Homo sapiens: one gene and its partners. The protein of the gene in region 4 purifies or fractionates together with the protein of the main gene of each other region. This does not show direct contact. Each region holds a gene or a part of one and is shown on either strand. Other genes may lie near its edges. The genes, in order: SFMBT1, PGM2L1, UTP4, KIF22, ZYG11B, USP47 and HMGXB4.

The links.
Region 1: the proteins of KIF22 (region 4) and SFMBT1 purify together in Homo sapiens (affinity purification with mass spectrometry; one large-scale study listed by BioGRID and IntAct). This does not show direct contact.
Region 2: the proteins of KIF22 (region 4) and PGM2L1 purify together in Homo sapiens (affinity purification with mass spectrometry; one large-scale study listed by BioGRID and IntAct). This does not show direct contact.
Region 3: the proteins of KIF22 (region 4) and UTP4 purify together in Homo sapiens (affinity purification with mass spectrometry; one large-scale study listed by BioGRID and IntAct). This does not show direct contact.
Region 5: the proteins of KIF22 (region 4) and ZYG11B purify together in Homo sapiens (affinity purification with mass spectrometry; one large-scale study listed by BioGRID and IntAct). This does not show direct contact.
Region 6: the proteins of KIF22 (region 4) and USP47 purify together in Homo sapiens (affinity purification with mass spectrometry; 2 studies listed by BioGRID and IntAct, with this or other methods). This does not show direct contact.
Region 7: the proteins of KIF22 (region 4) and HMGXB4 purify together in Homo sapiens (affinity purification with mass spectrometry; one large-scale study listed by BioGRID and IntAct). This does not show direct contact.

What each region holds. Positions count from the first base shown.
Region 1 is NC_000003.12:53,036,074-53,039,573, forward strand, and holds part of SFMBT1 (scm-like with four MBT domains protein 1), read right to left. Parts: intron 1-3,500. UniProt on the Homo sapiens protein: Histone-binding protein, which is part of various corepressor complexes. Mediates the recruitment of corepressor complexes to target genes, followed by chromatin compaction and repression of transcription.
Region 2 is NC_000011.10:74,329,816-74,332,433, forward strand, and holds the end of PGM2L1 (glucose 1,6-bisphosphate synthase), read right to left. Parts: 3' UTR 501-2,618; downstream 1-500. UniProt on the Homo sapiens protein: Glucose 1,6-bisphosphate synthase using 1,3-bisphosphoglycerate as a phosphate donor and a series of 1-phosphate sugars, including glucose 1-phosphate, mannose 1-phosphate, ribose 1-phosphate and deoxyribose 1-phosphate, as acceptors.
Region 3 is NC_000016.10:69,156,649-69,160,148, forward strand, and holds part of UTP4 (U3 small nucleolar RNA-associated protein 4 homolog), read left to right. Parts: intron 1-435; coding exon 436-592; intron 593-3,500. UniProt on the Homo sapiens protein: Ribosome biogenesis factor. Involved in nucleolar processing of pre-18S ribosomal RNA. Part of the small subunit (SSU) processome, first precursor of the small eukaryotic ribosomal subunit.
Region 4 is NC_000016.10:29,800,751-29,803,317, reverse strand, and holds part of KIF22 (kinesin-like protein KIF22), read right to left. Parts: exon of another isoform or gene 2,516-2,567; intron 550-2,515; coding exon 381-549; intron 1-380. UniProt on the Homo sapiens protein: Kinesin family member that is involved in spindle formation and the movements of chromosomes during mitosis and meiosis. Binds to microtubules and to DNA. Plays a role in congression of laterally attached chromosomes in NDC80-depleted cells.
Region 5 is NC_000001.11:52,823,953-52,827,452, reverse strand, and holds the end of ZYG11B (protein zyg-11 homolog B), read right to left. Parts: 3' UTR 117-3,500; downstream 1-116. UniProt on the Homo sapiens protein: Serves as substrate adapter subunit in the E3 ubiquitin ligase complex ZYG11B-CUL2-Elongin BC. Acts to target substrates bearing N-terminal degrons for proteasomal degradation with the first four residues of substrates being the key recognition elements.
Region 6 is NC_000011.10:11,939,472-11,942,971, reverse strand, and holds part of USP47 (ubiquitin carboxyl-terminal hydrolase 47), read right to left. Parts: intron 2,544-3,500; coding exon 2,424-2,543; intron 638-2,423; coding exon 1-637. UniProt on the Homo sapiens protein: Ubiquitin-specific protease that specifically deubiquitinates monoubiquitinated DNA polymerase beta (POLB), stabilizing POLB thereby playing a role in base-excision repair (BER). Acts as a regulator of cell growth and genome integrity.
Region 7 is NC_000022.11:35,291,993-35,295,492, reverse strand, and holds part of HMGXB4 (HMG domain-containing protein 4), read right to left. Parts: intron 2,502-3,500; coding exon 2,379-2,501; intron 1,887-2,378; coding exon 1,842-1,886; 3' UTR 1-1,841. UniProt on the Homo sapiens protein: Negatively regulates Wnt/beta-catenin signaling during development.

The DNA of each region.
Region 1 (3,500 bases), on a different chromosome or scaffold from region 4:
AAGGAAGTGGGGTACAGAATAGATAAAATGGTTTAAAACATAGAGCATGCCCTCAAAGCAGTGCTGACAGCAACTCTGAGGAGCTCCATTTATGCAGAATCCACTGGGAAGGCTGCCCCAAGAGCCAGCCGCCAGTCCTGCCTGGGAGGAGAGGGAAGCAGAGAATGTCCAGCTATCCTGCCGTGGGACAGGATGCTGGCCCTTCACCCCTACTCCACTAGGAGGACTCTCATTTTATTTTACTTATCGGGCTTCCTAGAAAGATTTCATTTGAACAAAGGGTTCCACAACTTTAAAAACACTTGAAAACCAAGGAGTCAGAACTGTACGTTCTAACTCCAAGGCTGGCAATTGAAGAATAAGACCTCAAGTCCCACAGGAAAGCTCCCAGTGGACAAAACAAACACCATCGCTGAGGAGCAATGTAAAGAAAGAGACCTGGGCAAACAGGCCCACTAGAGGACTGGCGTCTTTGGGGTAGAAGGAGAAATTCTATTTTGGACCTGTGGATTCTGAGATGCCAGTGTGGCACCCAACTTGGAAGCCCAACGGGCAGGGATGTAGGGGTCTTAGAGGAGCACAGGAGCTAGACAAACTCTAAATGTGGACAACTTCATTGAGAGAGATGTAAATAGAAAGAAGGGAAGGTCTTAAAAGGTTACAGAAGGCAAAGACAGAAAGGTCTGCCTCAAGACAGGTCTTTCTGGAGAACCTGAATTCTCCTCCAAGGTAGTCTATATCCAGGAGCAGAGAGAGGCACTGGCTGGAAGGCTGCAGGTGGCTTACGGGGCCACAGAAGGGAAAGAGGGAAAGAACAAAGTGGATTGGCTAGGGAGCAGCTCAAAGATTAGACAGTGGGTCCAGGCCTGATGGGGCTGGGACTCTGGGAGAAAATGAAGGTCACAATGAGATAAAAGACGAGGCATAGGGAGAACAGGGAATCCTCTGAAGGAGGCTGTAGAGAACCCAACATTTCACCAGCACACTATTCCGGAAAGCACTCCTGTCAGACAAAGTCAATAGAAAGCCAAAAACAGGAGTAAAAGTCAATGGCTAGGAGAGGAGCTAGGGTGAGGGCAGTTGTGTCTTACCGCCCTGACTGGCTGCGGGATCATGCAGCCCTCCTCAAGCACTTGCTGCAGAAAAGGAAGACTCTCCCTAGAAGGGGAGGCCAGAAGAGACCACCCAGCCCTCTGCTTCCCTTGTCATAGCCATTCCTGAGAATGGAGCCTGACAACAAAGAAAGTCATTTGAAGCTCTTCTCTGTTGATTGAGGAGCCCAATTGAATACTTACAGGAAAACTGGGTACAGATAATGCCTAGGAGAAGATCTAAGCCTGTTTCCCAATTTGCATATGGTGTTATTCATATTAACGATAAAGAAAACTACGTATTTTTAAGTGCAACTATAACTTGATTGAGGACTGGAAAGCCAACATTAAAAGAGAAATAAAATTAAATTAATATTAATTACATTAAGAGATCAAGGGATTCAGATGTTTTAATACCATCATAAACACCTATAACAACAATAATACACCCGAAGTTTCTCAAATTTCTATCTTTAGCTAGACCACCCAACCCTGCTCATTTTGCTCAATGATAAAAATGAAAACCAGGCTGGGCATAGTGGCTCATGCCTGTAATCCCAGCACTTTGGGAAGCTGAGGCTAGAGAATCACTTGAGGCCAGAAGTTTTGAGACCAGGTTGGACAACACTGAGAGACCCCATCTCTACAAAAAATGTTTTAAAGGCCCGGCGCAGTGGCTCACACCTGTAATCTCAGCACTTTAGGAGGCCAAGGCGGATGGATCGCCTGAGGTCAGGGGTTCAAGACCAGCCTGGCCAACATGATGAAACCCTGTCTCTACCAAAAAATACAAAAAATTAGCCAGGCATGGTGGCAGGCACCTGTAATCCCAGCTACTCGGGAGGCTGAGGTAGTAGAATCACTTGAAACCAGGAGGCGGAGGTGGCCAAGATTGCACCGCTGCACTCCAGCCTGGGCAACAAGAGCAAAACTTTGTCTCAAAAAAAAAATGTTTTAAAAAATTAGCCAGGTGCTGGGGCATGCACCTGTAGTCCTAGCTACTCAGGAGGCTGAGGCAGGAGAAGTGCTTGAGCCCAGGCACTCCAGTTTAGACAACTGTCTCCTACCCTGTATCTCCTCCCCTAACCATTGACTTTTACTACCGTGGCTCTATGCTCTATTAGACAACATCATGCCAAAGAAACTGATACTTTCTCAGAAAAGCCTTACTAACTCTAGGAAACAACTAACCATTCTTAAGAATTGAATAGTAACACAACGCACAATAAAAATCAGGCTTCATGACATTTACTGTCTATTCTTCAATGGTTTCCAGAAAGTCAAAAACATCCTTGCCATGAAGAAAGGACAGTAATTAAGAGATGGCCTCCCCCCGGTAACAAACAGTATTAGGAAACTCATCCCACATTTACTACATTAATACAGCCATTAAAAATAATAATGGAGGAAAATATAACTCTTTAACCATTCTGAAAGTACATACCTGCTCAACTCTCTATTACCCTTAACTGTCAAACCTGCTTTCTCTCCAACCAGGATTGGACATCTATATTTCACAAATACAGAATTAAAGTGATACAGCAAATCTAAAATACAAAGCATTAATTAGGTGGTATCATTATTATGTAAGTCATTAAGCCTTTTTAAACACGTACTAGTTTTCTATCAATACAGAAACAAGAGTGAAATATGGCAAAACCTCAACTAACCAGAACAGCTGGGGATTGAGTCACTGAATATGCCTTTCAGATAGGTGAAGGCTTATTTACAATTCTGAACACACATATTTTTTTGGTTAACTGTTCTGGACGACATGCTTTGACACAGGCCCACACCACGAATGTCAGTGATCACACAGTAAGATGGCATCCTGAGACCCAAAAGGCCTTACTCCTTACTCAATGTTACCCTGGACTCCTGCAACCTTTGCTTTTATGTTCTCCTTGTCTTCCACCCTGCTGTCACAATCTGCTCTGTTTCTTTTGTTCGAATAAGCAAGTGTGCCCAAACTGTATCTAAGGACAAGGTACCTGGTTCTCTAGGCTCTGCTGGGCACATACGGAGTTCTTCCAAGGGAGGTAAACAAATCCTAGCAAACAGTATTCTGTGACCTGACCTCCACTTTACCTGCTGTGGAAGTCTTTCAAATAATTTACTTCCTCAAAAAAAATTCTGACACATGCTACAACATGGATGAACCTTAAAGACATTATGTTAAGTGAATTAAGGCAATCACAAAAGGATAAATACTGTATGATTCCACTTAGATGAAGTACCTAGAATAGTCAAAATCATAAAGACAGAAAGTAGAACAGTGGTTGTCTAGGGTGGGAGGAGGGGAGTTGGGGAATCCCTGTTTCATGGGTACAGAGTTCCAGTCTGGGAAGATTAAAAAAGTTCTAGAGATGGATGGTGGTAATGGTTACACAACAATGTCAATGTACTTAA
Region 2 (2,618 bases), on a different chromosome or scaffold from region 4:
GTCGGCATGGTTCTCAGAATATTCCATTTAGAAGCTGACAAAAGGACCTCGTAGAACATTCCTTTCAGTCATCTTCCCTTTGAGCCTGATCTGGGAAAGGCAGGCAACAGAGACCAGGACCACAGATTCATAAGAACCCTTGGAAACTCAGTCCTTCATCAGTATTGAAGCATAGATCTACGGTTATTACCGTGAGAGATTTCCAAACTTTAAACTTTTGTCTTATTATAGTAGCTGGCGCTAACATGGGCAAACAAATTAGATCAGCTTAAGGAGAGAAAAAGAAAAGAAAAATAAGAATGTTAATGTTAGTTCTCACATCTGGGACTTCTGATAAACCAATCAAGAAATATTTCCTGAGTACTAAGCCAGAATATTCATTTAGATGCAAAGTGGATTCTAGGGTATGTGATGTGTGTATTTCAAGAGTATTTCCTGTTTAGATAGCAAGCTTTATGAACTACACAGTATCTCAAATAAAAATTACACAGAAACTCATGCCTATGAAGAGACCTGTTTATTACTGATAACACTTCATTTGGCTAAAACCACAAGAAATCCACACACAAATACATAAAGTGCAAATTCTCACAGGCAGTACTTATAATACACCCTGGTGTTTTTGTAGGGAAAAATGAGAAGATGTTGACAGAAACTGTTAAAACAAGGGCACAATTTTGAACTACTGCTACACACTTTAGTCAGAAAAATAATTCATTCTTGACTGCATAAATTTTACCTGGCATATTCAATGAGGCATACAAAGAGTTTATTCTAGCCTAGAACAACAAGGCCTCACCATACATAGAAGCAGAGTCTTGCTTGAGTGGCTCTTGTAAGATACATGATGAATCATAACAGTGGACAAAAACATACCAAATAGGATCAAATTTGTTGTGACTCACTTGGAAGGTAGTGCTACTAGGCTCAAAATGACACTTAGACTAGTGATATTAAGTCTACATAGACACCATTTCTTTACCTTCCTGGCCAACACCTTGCTTTGAGTGTAAAATACCAGGCATTATATATAATTTCCACAGAGAGATATGCTTTGCTCTCTCCAAAGAAACTGAGTATTTAAGGGGATGTCTGCTTAATAAACATTACATTATAAAGTTCAGTGATGGGACTTCATTGAAAAAACTGAATTAGAAAATTCATTTTTTGATTGTTCCTTAAACTATTTGCTACTTTTAAAAAATCCCTTAATTCCTAGTATCAGCAATTAAACACTCTATAACAGGTACTGAACTAGGTGGTATGGATATGAAAAATAATAAACCACGATTCCTACTCTCGGGACTGAGCATCAGGTGGTCCTTTTTAGTCAAGGAATGCCAATAGTAACAAAACTGTTTCAGGTCAGTTTAGTTTGGCATTAATCCTTCTGAAGGTCAGATTCCAAGGGCAGGAAATAGTCTGGATATGTTCTATGTTTATATATCTTTTTTTTTTTTTTTTGAGATGGAGTTTCACTCTTGTTGCCCAGGCTGGAGTGCAACGGCGCGATCTTGGCTCACCACAACCTCCACCTCCTGGGTTCAAGTGATTCTCCTGCCTCAGCCTCCCGAGTAGCTGGGATTACAGGCATGTGCCACCACACCCGGCTAATTTTGTATTTTTAGTGGACACAGGGTTTCTCCATGTCGGTCAGGCTAGTCTCAATCTCCCGACCTCAGATGATCCACCTGCTTCGGCCTCCCAAAGTGCTAGGATTACAGGCATGAGCCACCGAGCCCGGCCTATGTTTATATATCTTGCACTACAGCCAGTGTGTGTAGCTCAAGGACTTGCCTCCACTGGGGGTGAGGGCACTGGGGGAGAAAACTGAGCAGCCACGTGATGAACATGGTGCTCCTTTGTGGTGGCATAAGTTTCAGTAAAGATTAAACATATCATTTTTATATTAAAAGTTTTATTATAAAGAATGCAAAATTCACTTACATTTTAAAGACAGAACACACTTCATGTCAGTGGTAGGCTGATTCTGATTTTGCTCTCAGAACCCCTTCCCCCTTCATCATGCCCCTCTGCTTTAGGGTTACGCTAGTGGAAAAATTTGAGCAGCAAACTCTAGGTATGTCACTTTGTCCCTATTTGGTCACTCTACACATTCTTATAGGTTCTCTTTTATAAGTACATAGTCTTGAATAAACAAAGAGGAAAGATGGTCTAATAAATATATAGTATGGTGAATACTTTAAGGTAACCAGTAGTCAACACTAACTTTGTTTCCAACTAGAATTAAATTCATGCTGTGCAAGGAGTCAGACAATGAGCAATTCTCATCTTACTATTTATACCTCTATGGCTTAGGGTAAGATGCTCTGAGGGACAAATGTGAATAAGATTTCCTTAGATCTTGTGCTTTGGCTCCCCAAGTACAAGGAAACCTGAAATAGAATGTTATGTCAATTGCCCATTCATTTTGGTTAGTACGACTCTTTCCTCATCAGTTTCTAGAACAATCTCAGATGACAAGTGAATTGTAAAAGGCCGTAATAAATTAACATATAGCAGTATGCAGACAGATCAAAACAGGTTATGAAATAGATTTAAAATTACTTCCTACAATAAGTCTTAAATATAATGACAACATTAACAAAATAACCAAA
Region 3 (3,500 bases), about 39 Mb from region 4:
GGGTTTCACCACGTTGGCCAGGCTGTCCTGAACTCCTGACCTCAGGTGATCCACCCCCTCAGCCTCCCAAAGTGCTGGGATCACAGGCATGAGACACTGCGCCCGGCCCACACCCAGCCTTTATTTCCATTTTGAAATTTTGAGGTATGTTCTTAGAGGGATAGGGTAATGCCCTACAGGCAATAAAATTAAAGCTTTTCTGTTTAGTGGTTTCACGTGCGACTTAGTTATTTCCTTGATAGAGAAGTGAATATTTAGTAAAGAGATGAAAGGGGGATGTATAGATTACTGGAGAGAAACCAGTGTTCTGTGCCGAGTCAGTTGGCTTACTTAGAGACAGGAAGCATTAATGTACCTTAAGCCTAGCTGTGATTGTTTCTGATGGGCTGTAGGTCTCCCTTCTCTCACTGGCTTTTATTATTGGTTCACCCAAAGGTTTCCAAAATGCCAGCATTCCTTCGCTCTGCCCTTCAGATTTTGTTTTCTGAAGATTCAACAAAGCTCTTTGTAGCATCAAATCAAGGAGCTCTGCATATTGTTCAGCTGTCAGGAGGAAGCTTCAAGCACCTGCATGCTTTCCAGCCTCAGTCAGGTGGGAATCTGGTAACTGGCCATGGGGAGACTTGTCGTGTCTAAGATGTAACTTTTTTGCTTTTAAGCCTCCATGTCGGGGGTTCCCTCATGTTCCTCCTACCCTGCAGATACACTCACTCACATGTTTGCTGTTTCAAGTAGGAGGAGATAGCTGGCAGATGAAGACTCTCGATGAGATCTGCAATGTTCTTCACACCTACTCTTTTCTCACTGGGTTTTTGATTCCTTATTTGGGGCCAGAGAAATTTCATCATCCTTAGTTTGTTAGCAGAACAAGAAGAAAGTTAAAGTCATTTGCAATCCTGACACCCAGAAATAGCTACCATTAATATTTTGGTATTTTCTAATATGTATTTGTATATAAGTATTTTGTGGGCATGTTGCCTTTTTTGGTTGTTTGTTCATAAAAAGGTACAATCATAGATGGCTGCCACCTCGACCTCTTGGGCTCAAGTTATCTTCCCATCTCAGCATCCTGAGTAGCTGGGACTATAGACACTCACCACTATGCCCAGCTAATTTTTTCATTTTTTTTGTAGAGACGGGGTCTCATTATGTTGACAAAGTTGGTCTTGAACTCCTGGGGTCAAGTGATCCTCCCATCCTGCCCTCCCAGCTGAGATTATAGGCATGAGCCACTGTGCCTGGCCCAAAAGTATTCTTATACATACAGTTTAATTACCTGTGTTCATATAATGTTCCTGAGAATTTTTCTGTTTTCATTGAGAATGTGAGTATTAATGAATGAGTGTGGCTATGTAGCTAGCTATGGCTAACTGTTAAGGACTTGGACTCAGTTTCCAGATTAAGCTGGTAGTTGTTTTGATACTTCCTATGGGCCTTTCACCTCTCCCTTGTCCTGGATTTTAGCTGCTGCTTCACTGTCATTTACACTCCCATCAGCCTGGAAAGTCAACTCTTTTTTTTTTTTTTTTTTTTTTTTTTTTTTGAGATGGCCTCACTCTGTTGCCGAGGCTGGAGTGCAGTGGTGCGATCATGGCTCACTGCAGCCTCACCCTCCCCAGGCTCAGAAAATCCTTCCACCTCAGCCTCCCAAGTACACAGGAGCATACCACCACACCCAGCTAAGTTTTGTATTTTTGTAGAGACAGGGTTTCACCATGTTGCCCATCCTGGTCTTAAACTCCTGGGCTGAAGCAATCCTCCTGCCTCAGCCTCCCAAAGTGCTAGGATTACAGGTGTGAGTCACCATGCCTAGTGAAAGTCAACTCTTTTATCTTCAACTCTCACTGTTCATAAGCTGATCCAGAAGCCTACAGGAGAAGAAACCCACAAGTTAGGGGTCAGATAAATCAAACTATTTATTATCTATATATGTTTTTATTACAAAACTTAGGCTATTTATCTTATATCTAGCTCTCCTTGAGATTCGACTCTACATTATGTATATGACTTTATTTTTTCCACTTCTCTCATCTCACTTCCCCTTGTAGTCAAAATGGTTTCTTCACAGCTCTCAAACCTGCATATTCTACTCCTCGTCACTTAGCTTGCACTGTTCCCCATCCTTTTTTCCTCATCCCCACCCATCCTTTGGCAGCTGGGTTATGCTTGTTATAAAGCCATGTTATCGTTTGGGGGCGTTACATGCAGCACGCATTTTGGCATAGAGCATCACTGTCCAATTTTTATCCCACACTAGTTGTCGTGTTGCCAGATTGGTTTAAAGTCTCTAGATGACAAAGATGGCTCAGACGTGCCCATCCTCCCTTAGTGCTAAATACACAGCAGGCATCCAATAAATTAAAGATATGCTTCAAGTCTATTGAACTTGCTGTTTGTCCGTAACTTTTTTTTTTATTATTAATTTATTTATTTTTGAGATAGAATTTCAAAAGACAGAGTTTCTTGTGCCCAGGCTGGAGTGCATTGGTGCCATCTCGGCTCACTGCAACCTTTGCCTCCCAGGTTCAAGTGATTCTCCTGCCTCAGCCTCCCTAGTAGCTGGGATTACAGGCACCCACAACCACGCCCAGCTATTTTTTTTTTGTACTCTTAGTAGAGATGGGGTTTCACCATCTTGGCCAGGCTGGTCTTGAACTCCTGACCTCAGGTAATCCACCTACCTCTGCCTCCCAAAGTGCTGGGATTACAGGTGTGAGCTACCACGCCTGGCCTGTCCATAATTTTGGCTTAAAAAAAATTTAGGGGCCGGGCACAGTGGCTCACACCTCCCAGCACTTTTGGAGGCCGAGGTGGGCAGATCATAAGGTCAAGAGATCGAGACCATGCTGACCAAAATGGTGAAACCCCATCTCTACTAAATATACAAAAATTAGCTGGGTGTGGTGGTGCACGCCTGTAGTCCCAGCTACTTGGGAGGCTGAGGCAGGAGAATGGCTTGAACCCGAGAGGCAGAGGTTGCAGTGAGCCGAGATTGCACCACTGCACTCCAGCCTGACAACAGAGTGAGACTCCGTCTAAAAAAAGAAAAAAGAAAGAGGCCAGGCACGGTGGCTCACGCCTGTAATCCCAGCACTTTGGGAGGCCAAGGTGGGCGGATCATCTGAGGTCAGGAGTTCAAGACCAGCCCAGCCAACATGGTGAAACCCCATCTCTACTAAAAATACAAAAATTAGCCAGGCATGGTGGTGGGTGCCTGTAATCCCAGCTAGTCAGGAGGCTGAGGCGGGTGAATCACTTGAATTTGGGAGTTGGAGGTTGGAGTGAGCGGATCCGCCACTGCACTCCAGCCCGAGTGACAGAGCTAGACTCCATCTCAAAAAAAAAAAAACAAAAAACAGAAAAAAAACCATTTGGTAGGAAAGGAGTTTGAAACAATTAAAGTATATATTTTAGTGGCAGATGCTGCCGTCATTCTCTATTCCTGTAGTAAGCAGTGTCTTAGGCCTGAGGAAGTAATAACTTCTGTTTTATCTCTCTGG
Region 4 (2,567 bases):
AGGAGACAGGTGGAGCCTAACATAATTAAGGGCTTTCTGTGATTAGGGGGCTACCCAGAGGTGGAACAAGCCTCTGCAAATATTGAAGGGAAAGGCTTTTCAAGCACAGTCCTCAATTAATTGAGCTGGGCTTTAGGAAATGTAATGTTTAACATTTGTTGCTTTTACTTTGAACTTTTTCTTCTCACCCTCACATCTGGTCTCAATTGTCTGTCAAAGTTCAGCCATGTTAAGGACATTCAAGCAGAAGCTGGAGAACTTCCGGTATTGGGAGAAAACTGGACTCTAGTCCAGCCTGAGTGTCCTTCCCTGTCTGAAGATCCAAGGATTGCTTCTCAAGGCCAATAGGAATCCAGCTCCCACATCCCTAAAACACGTACCTCAATCTCTAGGTCCTTCTCTTCCACTGTCTTCATTAGCACCATCCGCTCTCGCTTTGGGGTACTCAACAGAGGGGCCCCCTGGCTCCCCTGGGAGGCAAGCAGACGGTCCAAGCTGAGGAGGCGCTCCAGCATGGCCGGGTCCATGCTGCTTAGCTTCTGTAGGGGGCTGAGCAGAAAAAGAAGTTGCTCCCCACCTACCTCCTCCCTCATCACCACCTACAGCAGCAGGACTCCCCTCACCACACCTTAACTTGGTATATCCTGTAGCTCCAGAACCTAATGTTAACTTGCTAGGCATCCAGTTTCTCTGGGTGCAGTGTCTTCATCAGGTGAAGTGACTGCTCGGGGATGCCAGGAAATCAGGCGAACACTTGAGTGCCAGGTATGAGAGACCTAAGACACTGCCCTGCCCTGGAGGCACTGTCTACTGAGGAAATCAAGAGACCATAATAAGGTGACAGCCAGGACAGTGCCTATCCATTTGGAGGAGCAGTTGCGGAAAACATCACAGAGGATGCCATCTTTAGCAGGGCTTTGAAATCCACCGAAGACCTCAGCTGCCAAGCTTCCCTGCTGTGGGCAGCTGGGAAGGCCTGTTCAAGCAGTCCTGACTGACTCTGAGCACGGTAAGGCTTAACATTCTTTTTTTTTTTTTTTTTTTTTTTTTGAGACAGGGTCTTGCTCTGTCACCCAGGCTGGAGTGCAGTGTTGAGATCACAGCTCACTATAGCCTTGGCCTCCTGAGGCTTAAGCAATCCCCCTGTCTCAGCCTCCTGAGTAGCTGGGTCCACAGGTGCATGCCACCATGCCCAGCTAATTTTTTTATTTTTTGTAGAGATGGGGTCTTACTATGTTGCCCAGGCTGGTCTTGAACTCCTGGGCTCAAGTGATCCACCCACCTTGGCCTCCCAAAGTGCTGGGATTACAGGTGTGAGCCACTGCGCCCAGTCAGCAACGTCTAACATTCATTTATTTTGCCTGGAATCTTGCCCCACACCTCCTCACATCTGTATCAATAATCTTTCCAGGTCAGTTTGATGCCACCTTTCCCATGACGCCAAGCTTAACAATGCATCTCCCTTCCTATGCTGTGAACTGGCTCCTGGAGGACAGGGACACTCCTGTGCTTTCCATGCTAGTGCCTTGGAAAAACAGGATCAGAACATACGTGGGCAAACACTAGAAGTCATCTCTTCCTTCCTGACTCTCACAGCAGCAGCAGCTACTCCTTCCTGATTCTGAATTCTCCACCTGGTATCATATACTGATGTTCCCATCTGACTTGCTCTCCTGTGAGGCCCCCAAGCTCTGGGTCTGCTGGGTTTGATGTGCCCAACTCTGAGCTTCCCCTTACTCAGAGTGCCTGTCTGACAGCTTACCTGTGCACATTTCTGGGTGCACACAGCAGTGGGGAGTGCTGACAGATGGTTTGGGAAAGACAAGACTGAGAGATGGGGTCATGAGTGCACAAGCATCTTCTTGTGTGTGGCATCTTCCTTAACTACAGTAGCCCCCTGGGACAGAGTGGGCACTAACCCTTGGCCACCTCAGGTCACCTCTGTTTAGTAGTTCACAGGCTTTATTTGGGCTAGGGGTAGAAACAGGGCAAAGTTAAAACTGCAACTGGCTCCTGGGGGGTGGAGGGAATAGCGCAAGGGCTAAGTGGCCAGACACAGAAAGCAAGACCCCTGAACAGAGATGACCTGAGGATTAGTACATACTGGGCCATGAGGTGGGGTGATTGGAGTTGGGGCAGGAGGTGACACAAAGGACTTAGTTTAGAGGCTTTATCTGGATTGAGGGTAGACGCAGTTAGGACAGCAGCTGGCTCCCCGGAGAGTCATGGAGAAGCTGGGCACTGACACACAGACCAGATGGTCTCAGCAGGACAGCTCTTCCAAGTCTCCTTTGCTTTGCTCTCATGGATCTGAAAGATCTGATCCAGATCACTCCTTGAACCAGAAGCAAAAATGCTCATCCTTGAAACAGCTGTCCCAAAGTGAGAAGTTTTGCTGAAGGCTAAAGGGGTTGGAAAATGGAAAGGATCCCCAGGAGGAGGCCTCCTTAGGTCCCCAAGGCAGCAGCACTGAGGAGAGATTAATCTTAGACTTTAGTGATTCAATGGAGTAGAATTTGGGGGGAATTTATTTATTTACTTATTTATTTATTGAGATGCAGTCTTGC
Region 5 (3,500 bases), on a different chromosome or scaffold from region 4:
AGCCTTTTTCAGAAAGCAATCATTACAAGTGGATCACTAAGGAATTTGAAGTTTGCATTAATATTAACTTTTAAAGCCAAATGTCTAGAATAAAAGTAGACAAGACACACTTTACATAAAATTTATAACATTTATTTAGGCAAAAAAAATCCCAAAACAAAAATCTGTACACACAACATTAATACTTAAGTGATGTCCTGATTTAAAATACAGCATGATTCATGTACAGAATACTCCCATTCATCTGGCCATAGTGAGAACAGTGCCTTCAGTCCAGATAATTGAGAGTCTTTGAAATATACACACTTTCCAATGAATTTTTTATATCCTTAGAAAGGAGTTAAACTGTTCTATCAGAATTCAAACAAAAGATAACTTCTCTCACACTCATAAGTCAGTGAGAATTTGACAGTGGGAATTCTACAAAAGTCAGGGATTTCTTAATTTTTGTTGTTGCAGATTATCTGAGAGTATAAAGTTTTTAAGGAAAAACAATGCTCTTAAGATCCTGCTTTTAATAAAGTGTCTCAGCTTTCATTAGCTAAGTAGCTTCTTCCTTCTAGGCTGCTTAAAATAAGCTTAAAAGGACCCAATTTGAACAGTTTTTCCCAAAATAAGTCCAAAATTAAACACATAACATTAATAAAATAGATTGATGATTTCCCACAAAATAATTTTGATAAACTTGGATTTTGGAAATATTCTTAATGGCCATTCTGTCTAGCTGTAAAGTTAGGCTGTGCTATCCAAAAGAGCTTTACTTTAGAGTCATGAGAAGCAGCACTGATCTTTGCAAAACTTACCCCAAAAAATGGGGAGAGAGAAAAACAGGAAGAAAAGTCTCTTTCTTAGGCTACCAGTCAGTTAACAAAGTATCTTAGATTAAGATTTGGAAACCAAAGAATGCATAATTAGGAGTGTACCATATCATGCAAAGTCTATGAAATACTAAATAAGGTAAAACAGTTAATCATTTAAAGCACGATGAGCAAATTCTCTTATCATACGGCTATTCTCATCACCGGACGAAGGTTGGTTTTGCATTATTCCTAAAATAAAACAGTTCGTGAGTGAATACTGCAAATTAAAAACTGTCAAAACACAGCAAATGATAAGGACTAAACATCCATTATCCACAAACTCATTTGAAACTACTACCATGGATTTGAGAGGGAAACCAAAAGTTTGCAAACCTCTCTGGGAGCTGTGTCAAAGTTAGTATTCTGAAGCCCTAGCAATACAAAGTCCCCAAATAAGTAAAATACAGATAAAAGTGGAAGAGCCTACATCAGCTCAAAGTAACATACTTCCTTTAACTTATGCCTTCAGTTTAATAATACTGTTTATACCACTACATTGTATAATAACGAAATAATGTAAACATACCATTAGAGGGCAGGAGAGGGATGGGTTTCACCATATACAAAGAGTTTAAGTTTGTTTTCCCTGCTACCTCTTTTTAACCTTGGGTGCAGCTGTACATTGTTCTATAGGGGTATTGTTCTATAGTTTAAAAACACTAAGCTAAATCTCTGGTAAATTAACCTAATTTAGCACATAAAATATGTTTTCATTAAACATATGGGATAGGAAGGGATAGGAAGATGGCCCGGTGTTATGTTGATGCATGGCATAATTAAAAACACAGCTAAGACCAGGCACTGTGGCTCATGCCTGTGATTCCAGCACTTTGGGAAGCTGAGGTGGGAAAGTCACTTGAGGCCAGGAGTTCGAGACCAGCCTGGGCAACACAGTGAGACACCATCTCTCTCTCTCGCTTTTTTTTTTTTTTTTTTTTTAACATAGCCAAATAAGATGACTGGGGAGAAAACAGATTAACACAAAAGGTCCCACCTGTAAGGGCAACTTCCTAAAGCTAGATATATAGAACCGATGGTTTTAAACATAAAACTTGATTATGTAGAAGTTTGCAAATGAAATATATCACGAAAGCAAATTCCCATGCAGCTTTATTCACCTCAACCATGTGTAATCTACTTAAGGTGACTAGTGCCACTATAAGGCATTACTGTCCCAGGGTGACAAGAAGCAATATTTATACTCAATTCCTGAAACTGGGGGTCTGATATGCTTTTTAAAAATCCTAAACTAACTAATATCAGTAGCCATGGAGTCATCGGCTTGAGGGTAAACTAATCCCTTATACCACTTGATTTATTTTATTAATTAGTTAATAATGCAGTTAATTTTCAACTGCAAAAAGAAAAAATTATTTTGTGGAGTAGAAAGACCACAGCAATAATTACTTGATGCAAAAAATAAGACACCTTAATTGTATTTGCTCAAATCTGTTGTCTTAATGATACCAATATGTATCATTATAATCTATTTTTTAAAAATTTTCCTCATTATGCCCTAGAACATCATTATACTCTAAAAAGTCAAATTCCATTTCCTTTAGATTTCCTTAATGTTGCTTGTGGACTGATGTAGTGATATTTTACATTGGAGCCCACCAATGATTTGAACAATGAGTGGTTCAACCCTAGTCTAAATTGTGCTTGAAACAGCACCTCTAGCCACTGAGAGATAACACTCAAAGGCACCAATAACAGTTATATTCTAGTCTACAGGTGCAAAAAGGAGGCCTTGTAGATTCTAACTATAGATACTGGCTACTTATGCCTCATAATTCCAATACATACATCCACTGTATTTTAGCCAGATTCAGGACCTTACACACAATTCTGTGCCTTAATTCTATACGCAATTTTAGGAACCATCCCAACTGCAAAGGCACTCAAATTTTTATATATTTGGGATGTAATAAATTATTATGCTTTTTTTTTTTTTGAGACGGAGTCTTACTCTGTCACCCAGGCTGGAGTGCAGTGGCATGATATTGGCTCACCACAACCTCCACCTCCCAGGTTCAAGCGATTCTCCTGCCTCAGCCTCCTGAGTAGCTGGGATTACAGGTGCCCGCCACCACACCCAGCTAATTTTTGTATATTTAGTAGAGACAGGGTTTCACCATTTGGGCCAGGCTGGTCTTGAACTCCTGACCTTGTGATCCACCCACCTCGGCCTCCCAAAGTGCTGGGATTACAGGCGTGAGCCACCGCGCCCGGCCTATTATGCTTTTAAGACTCAGAAGTATCTGGCCACTACTGATGTTTACAAAGTAGGAAATTTAGCCTGTAGTTCCAGCTACTCCAGAGGCTGAGGGGGTAAGATCACATAAGCCCAAGAGGCTGCAGTGAGGTATGATTGTGCCACTGCACTCCAGCTTGGGCGACAGAGTGAAACTCTGTCTCTACAAAAAGAAAAAAAGTAGGAAGTTTAATTTTTTTTTTCCCCAGAGTCTCACTCCGTTGTCCAGGCTGGAGTGCAGTGGCACGATCTTAGCTCACTGCAACCTCCACTTCCTGGGTTCAAGTGATTCTCGTGCCTCAGCCTCCCGAGTAGCTGGGACTATAGGCGTGCAAAAAAGCCACCATGCCCAGCTAGTTTTTGTATTTTTAGTAGAGACGGGGTTT
Region 6 (3,500 bases), on a different chromosome or scaffold from region 4:
CTTTTTTCCCTTCATTTGCTTTCGTTCTTCTACTACTTGTGATACTGTGAGAGTCAAGTCCATTAGCCAAAGGGATCTGAGCATTGTCTGCATTGCACAAAGTATCACTGCTATGACTGGAGCTAAGAATATCACTGTCCACTGAACTTGTACTCCTGTCATTATTCACATCTGAGTCTGATCGTTCTTCAGACTGAAAATTTTCTGGATCAGAAGTCTGAATATGCTGTTCAAGTTCTCTATTATCCACTGATGCTGAAGAGTCCCTCTCATTGAGAGGTGATTCGATGTTTTCAAAGTCACTTGTCTCAGTACTTTTGCTGCTGTCCCCATTATCTCCATCCTGCTGTTGCTGCAGTGACAAGCTTTTGAGTTTTTCAGTGCTTTCTTCTAGAATAGCTTCCACAGACTTTAGGCTTCCTACAGGTCCTTTGACTCTTTCACAGTCATCATCCACATTACCAGAATCGCCTCCAGCTTTCTGGTATGCTGTCCTTTTGGAATAAGATACTGGGGATTGTTCAGGTAGCAAAACAAATAATCTGATTGTATTTGCATGCCGATCCAGGAGTTTCCATAAATGAGAGTCTGCAAAGGCCATCTGGTAATCCAAAGTCTCGGAGCTTTCAACAAACACCTACATAGTAAGTCAGAGTTTTATTATATATTAATTTTAGTGACATGCTCATTCATCATCATCATTATATTGCATCAATACAACACAATACACAGTTATGTTATAACATGTGTGATGATATAGTTTCTGAAGGACTCTATTGTTTTGGAGACTGAATAAAATGAACATTAGGCTCAAATGTCTTTGTAACTAGCCATAAAACTACACTAAGATAGACGGTATGGACATACACATACACACAAACATCTTGTTTATTGGGTTGTCCAATTTCAGAAAGTTGTGTATTATATATCCTTCTCTTTAGGAAATTAATACTCTGGTTTTTCTTTAGATTGTAGAAATCTTTCACCTTTAGGAAATCCAAGTTTAGCCTGAACTACAGACACAGGAACATGTGTAAAGACACCTTGTGAATATAACACCAAAATCCAGATCATGGAAAAATTTAATGGGCAAATGACTTGGCTTTGTAACAAACTGCAAGGAAGCAAACAAAAAAGACACAGGAAAATTTACAGAAAAAAATTTTCTAAGACAATCAGAGAAATTTGAACACTGACTAGATATTGACTGATATTAAGGTATTTCTTAGGTATATAATGTAATTGTCATTTTTTTAAAAGAGTTCTCTTCATTTAGATATATATGTTCATATTATCTATAGATGAAATGATATGATCCTGAGGAAGTTTATCAAATAATCTGGGCGAAGTAGGTGGTTAAATTATAGATGAAACGAGATGATCACTGTGGAAGCTGAGAGATGGGGATGTGTGGGGGTTCACTCTATTTTCCCTATTTTCTCTACTTTTGTTTACGTTTGAAATTTTCCATAATAAATCTTTTTTTAAAATGAAATTCGTACTTGGCATAAATTTGGCAATTATAAATAGCATGTTGGGTTTTGCATAAAAGGATAACACTATCATTATCCTATTCAGTAAATGTTACAAATTGAAACCAGTACGCTAACCGTTTAAGGAAAAAGAAAAGTTTCCCTACTGCACTTCTTACCCTAAAGTAATGTACTGGAGGGGATTAGAAATTTTAATGTTTTACATATACACACACATATACACGTACATCCCCTCCCCCACCACACAAAAGTTTTAGAAGTGTAGGTGAATAAAAATTACATATTAGTAATAAAATACTAAAAAAGTTAAATGAGATAAAAGACTAGACTGTACTAAGATGAATGAGACTAGAGTGATAAAAACACATATGAAAAATGATAAATGATCAAACACATAATAATAGCAAGACAAAAGAAGAGGATTAACATGAACTTTCTCATTTCCAACAGAGAAAAATAAGTAGGCAAAAGGAATAATGTTGGGTGAACTCAAGATTATAATTTTCTCTATACCAGGTATGCCTCTGACCCTCACCATGAAGCACTGCTTTATGGGACAAGCTCAAGAATAAACACAATCCAGGGGACATAATCACTGTGGGAAGAAATGGTTATGAAGTCTTCACCAAAGAGGTAGGACTAATCTGGAGACTGAAAAAAAAAAAATGCAGGGAGAGGAGGAAGAACACTCCAGGTGGGAGTGCACATGAACAAAGGCAAAGAAGAGGAGAACCAGTAGGACTGATTCACAGGACAGAAGGGAGCCTGACCTGACCTGACTACAAAGGAAGGTAATTACTGGGTTGAGAATTTTAAATTAAGTTCCAGACAGATGTTGAACAGCTGTGGAGGCCAGGCTTATAATATTGAACCTAATTTCATTTACTACTACCAGCATAGAAAATAGTAATGAAAAAGTAAATGACATACCTTGTTACTTCTAAAAAATCCTTCAGCTTTCAGGGTTTTACTGGAGACACTGAGAAGACGCAAATCATTGTAGCAGCGTTCCAGCACTATTCTCATTGTTTCAGCAGGTAAATGGATGGCCTATAATGAAAGCAATTTAATAAAAAGTACTCTTTCAAAAATAATTCTGCTTGACTTAAAAATATGGGAAAGCAAGACACTGCTGAGTTCTTCTTAAAAGCAGCAGAGAGAAACATAATTTTAGTAGAGGTTTTAAAATTTTTGAATAATTGAAGGGAAAAATTACTTATAGCCATAAATTATACTGCAAATCAGGAGAACAAAGTACCATTTATAAATGTATGCTCTGAAACTATTTTAAAGGTAAGGATTTTTTCCTAGAATCTCTATTGCTCTCAAACTTGCCAAGTAAATGAGTGATCTGATTCCAAAGAAACTGCGTAACTGACTTTTTGACTGCTGATATCAAAATGTTGAACTTCTTGGCTTTTGACAGGCCTTTCTATAGTCTGTGAATAGTTTTTAATACTTTTATTAAAGCAATAAGCAATTTTCCTTTGTGTAAAATGAGAAGATTAGTAGGGAAAATTTTAAGTTTTTCTGAAAGTCCACATCTTTAATTTTTGGAGTCATTTTATAAATTGACATGAAAGCAGCAGATAAAAATACTTTACATTTAAAAAACACAATTTCTTTTCAATGCAACTAAGGTCATCAGTTATAAATACCTAATTCTTAAGCAGGCTGGTTAAAAATACTGTATTTGTTTACATGATGTTTTGTGACTGCCTTTATTCTCTATAGACATATTTTTCTCAGTAAGATTATTAACTTCTTGGGGAAGAAACTACTGTGTCTCTTTCTTTTGTATTATGTGTGAGTGCTTATTAAACTAATTTTTTTTACATTTGTCATTCATATTTTAAAAATGTAATATACAGTATATTATACCAACATAGTATGCATTTACAAGCAATTTAATCATAAAATATAATTTCACAAAATGATTTGTTTCTTGGTTATTACTTTAGCAAAATTGTTAGAAGTCATATACAGAAGTCAAAATATAGACTTTTT
Region 7 (3,500 bases), on a different chromosome or scaffold from region 4:
TAATGTCTTCCTATACTATCCATGTCTTCCCCGCCCCTCCTAGATACCCTGTGTCAAACAGGAAACTTCCACAGATACAGAAGAGGCATGGTACAATGTTCTAACACATGAAATCAAGTTAAGATTTCTGTTCCTCTTGATTTTGGTTCTCAAACAATCCTGTTTCTCTGTATTCCCAATTAAATCTTAAAACTGCTCTGAGCTGAGAAAGGGATTCAGCAGCCAGACTACCTTTAAGCAACATAGCCCTGTGACAACACTGGTGGGGAGAAGGGAAGAAATTAAATAGGATGCAGATGGGCTACACTGTCCCCAAAGATTTACTTTGATGCTGTAGTGCTCTGTCAGGGCCAGGAGAAGAAAGCACAGTTAACTCAGAGCTTGGTGTTGGCAGAGAATCTCATACCAAATTTAAAAACCATCCTGAAGTGCTCAACTGTCTTCTTTCCAACTGGGAAACAAACGTCTGGTTCTCTGGAAATAAGGGCAGCTGGGGATGGTAACATTCCTCTTTATTTTACTTTCTAGACATTATTGAAGCCCATGAAGTTCTTTATAAAGAATTAGAATCCTAACACAATGATTCATTTTTGAGGTAAAATACCTTAAAATGTAGATGATTCAGAGTTTTTGGAACAGACCAGGAGGAAGGAAGGAAAGAGGGAAGGAAACAGGGAAGGAAGGAAGGAAAGAAGGGAGGGCGGAAGGGAGAAATGACAAATCTGTATCTTCCACATGCTGTTGCTGGTGGAGGCTTCTGTTATTAAATTATATATACAGAAATTTACAGGATAAATTAAAATCTAAGAGATTTTAAAGAGTTAAATACACATAATTAAAATACACATTCACACACACATAAATAAACCTACAAGAGAGTGAGTTTTGTTTTGTTTTTGCAATTCACTTACATGTGGAATGCAGAACACTGTGTATCTGCCCACCAGGGGAACTGATAAGATGAACCCAAAAATCATGCTGGGCAAAGTTTATCCATAACCACCGAGCAACTAAGCAGCACGGCTTGTGAGGACTTGGTGGCTAACTTCATGCTGCCAGTGAAAGACACCAGCACTTAATTCTGCCGACTAAAGATTCTGGGTTAGCTCAGAATGTATGGAGGTCCAACTGGTGGCATTGACAGCTTCACCCCCCAAGGTGTTTTTTGCTGCCAGGGCTCACAGAACTCCTTGGCCTCTGTTGAGGCCACCAATGGTACCAATGATTACAATAAATTTTGAGACACAGACACCTATACAGTAGGAATTGGAATGAACCCTCTACTCAATTCACCTAAGCCACTTCCATAACTATAAAGGGAACAAATTTTATCACCTCCCACCTAGGTCACTTCAAATTGAAAGGCTTTGAATTTTCAGTCAACTGGCATCTTCCCGTTATCTTTCCTATTACATTTCAGACTAAGACAGGTAAGGCAAATGGTCAGTGATGGGTCTGGAGGTCCAACTGAGCTTGGAAAATAATCACATTTTAGCTGTCCATAAAGAGATGCGCTTGGCACCCAGAACAAGCCCCCAGCCCCCAAGTTACATTGATTTTTAAGGCAGATTTATCCACCACAGGAGAAAAAAGAATCCCAAGCCTGTATTCATGCCAAAATTTCCTCTTGGCTAAACCTTTGCCATTTCATAAAATTATTAAAAGCAAAGTAGTTACAGTCTATGTATATATTGTACATTATATATATATGTATATATGTATGTATAGATATAAAAATTTAAAACCTACAGCCAGAGGCCACTGAAGGAATCTGCAACAGTCATATATACACAAACCAGCAATGGTGTAGGATAAGGTTTCTGTCCCAGGATTCTTTGCTGTCACAGTCCCGGCATGATGTAAGCAATGTTGTCTAATGTGTTTGACTGCAAAACAAAGAAAAATGTTCAACTGAAGAGTACTGTACCTTGGTTTCCTGAGAGATGTTTCTTTGTTCAAGGAGAGAGATAAGAAAAATCAAATGGAGTTAGAAAAACAGGTGAGAATGAAGACGGCATCCTGCTGTTTGTTATGCTAGGAACTTTTCTGCTGACTTCTCCCATTAATCCTCGTAAAAAAGAGGGAAACAATTCCTGTACTGTCTTTGGGTGCAGAATAGCAAACAGGAAACACAGGAATTGTAGTACCTCAAGGGCTAGAATGCTGCTTTCTTAAGTACTGTTTTGGTAAATGGCTTGTTTTCTAGTTTCAGTGAAAGTACAGCATGCATTTGATAATATAGCATCATGTTCCATGGGCCAACAGATGAAGGAAGCACTGTGTGTCACAAAGCCTTATGTGTGTCTGACAGTGCTCATTAAGGCAGGGCATCTCTGACGCCCAATGGATCTGACTCTAAAAATCCAGGGAAAACTCACCAAGACCTGTTTGGGACAGCCATTCAATTCAGGTAGTTGTGTGGTGAGACATGCCAAGGGGCCAAGGGCACAGATAATGGAATCCAGAAGCACTGACAAACTGCCAGACACAGCCACCATACCCTGAAAAGGAGAGGAGGTTGTTGCTTGAGTCACACTCCTGATGCTGTGTTCCGGCTGACTTCCTCACACAGTACTTTAAATCCTAGGCAGTTCTACTCTTATAATTTGAAACTTTACAGCAGAAATGGAAAGTTTACTTTGATAACTCTGTAAGTTGTTTAGAAAGAAAACTTTTACAGCACATTCCCATGTTCCCTTTCCGTAATCCTAGCCCATCTTCTTACCTTCTGAGTGACCTTGGGGAGTTCACATCCTTAACTTCTGTCTCCTTAACAGGAACAGTAAAAAATGCTTTACCTACTCTGGAGAGCTGTTGGTAAGATTTGTGATTATGTATGCAAAGTATATCTGTTATAAACTCGACAAATATAGCTCAGATGTGATTACTATGAGAATCCTACAACCCTGCATGTATGTAGCTTTTGATAGCTGATTATACAATTTTTCTAGGTTGAGTTGTTCACTCTCAAAGTGAATTTGGTTCAAATTTTAACATTTTATGTAATTCATATTGTCTATTTGTGATTCAAAGAGATAAGAAAGACTGTTGCTGCTGCCGAGTTCTTGTATAATCTGCTTTAACTAGAAGCAGTGTGAGAATATGTCATATTGGGAAGCAACACAGCACAGTCCTTAAGAAAATGAGCTCCGGATTCAAGACTGCCCGGGTCCAGATCCTGGCTCCACTACTCACTGTTTTGTACCTAGGCAAGTTGCTTACTATGCTGTGCCTGTAAGATACTAACAGCATCTGCAGCAGATGGGATTGAGATAATAGATATAATATACTTGGGATGGTGCTTAATACATGGTTAAGTACTCAAAAAATATCAGTAATTATGAATATTACTACCAACATCTTGATCTTCAAAACTGCATTTCTGGCTGTCTTTTGGGTCTCTCCTTTTGGATATTTCTCCATCTCAACTTCCTGTAAGGAAGAATAACCTTCCCATGCAAATCTAGCCCTCCTTTGAGCATCCATTTCTCTGCCAAAGT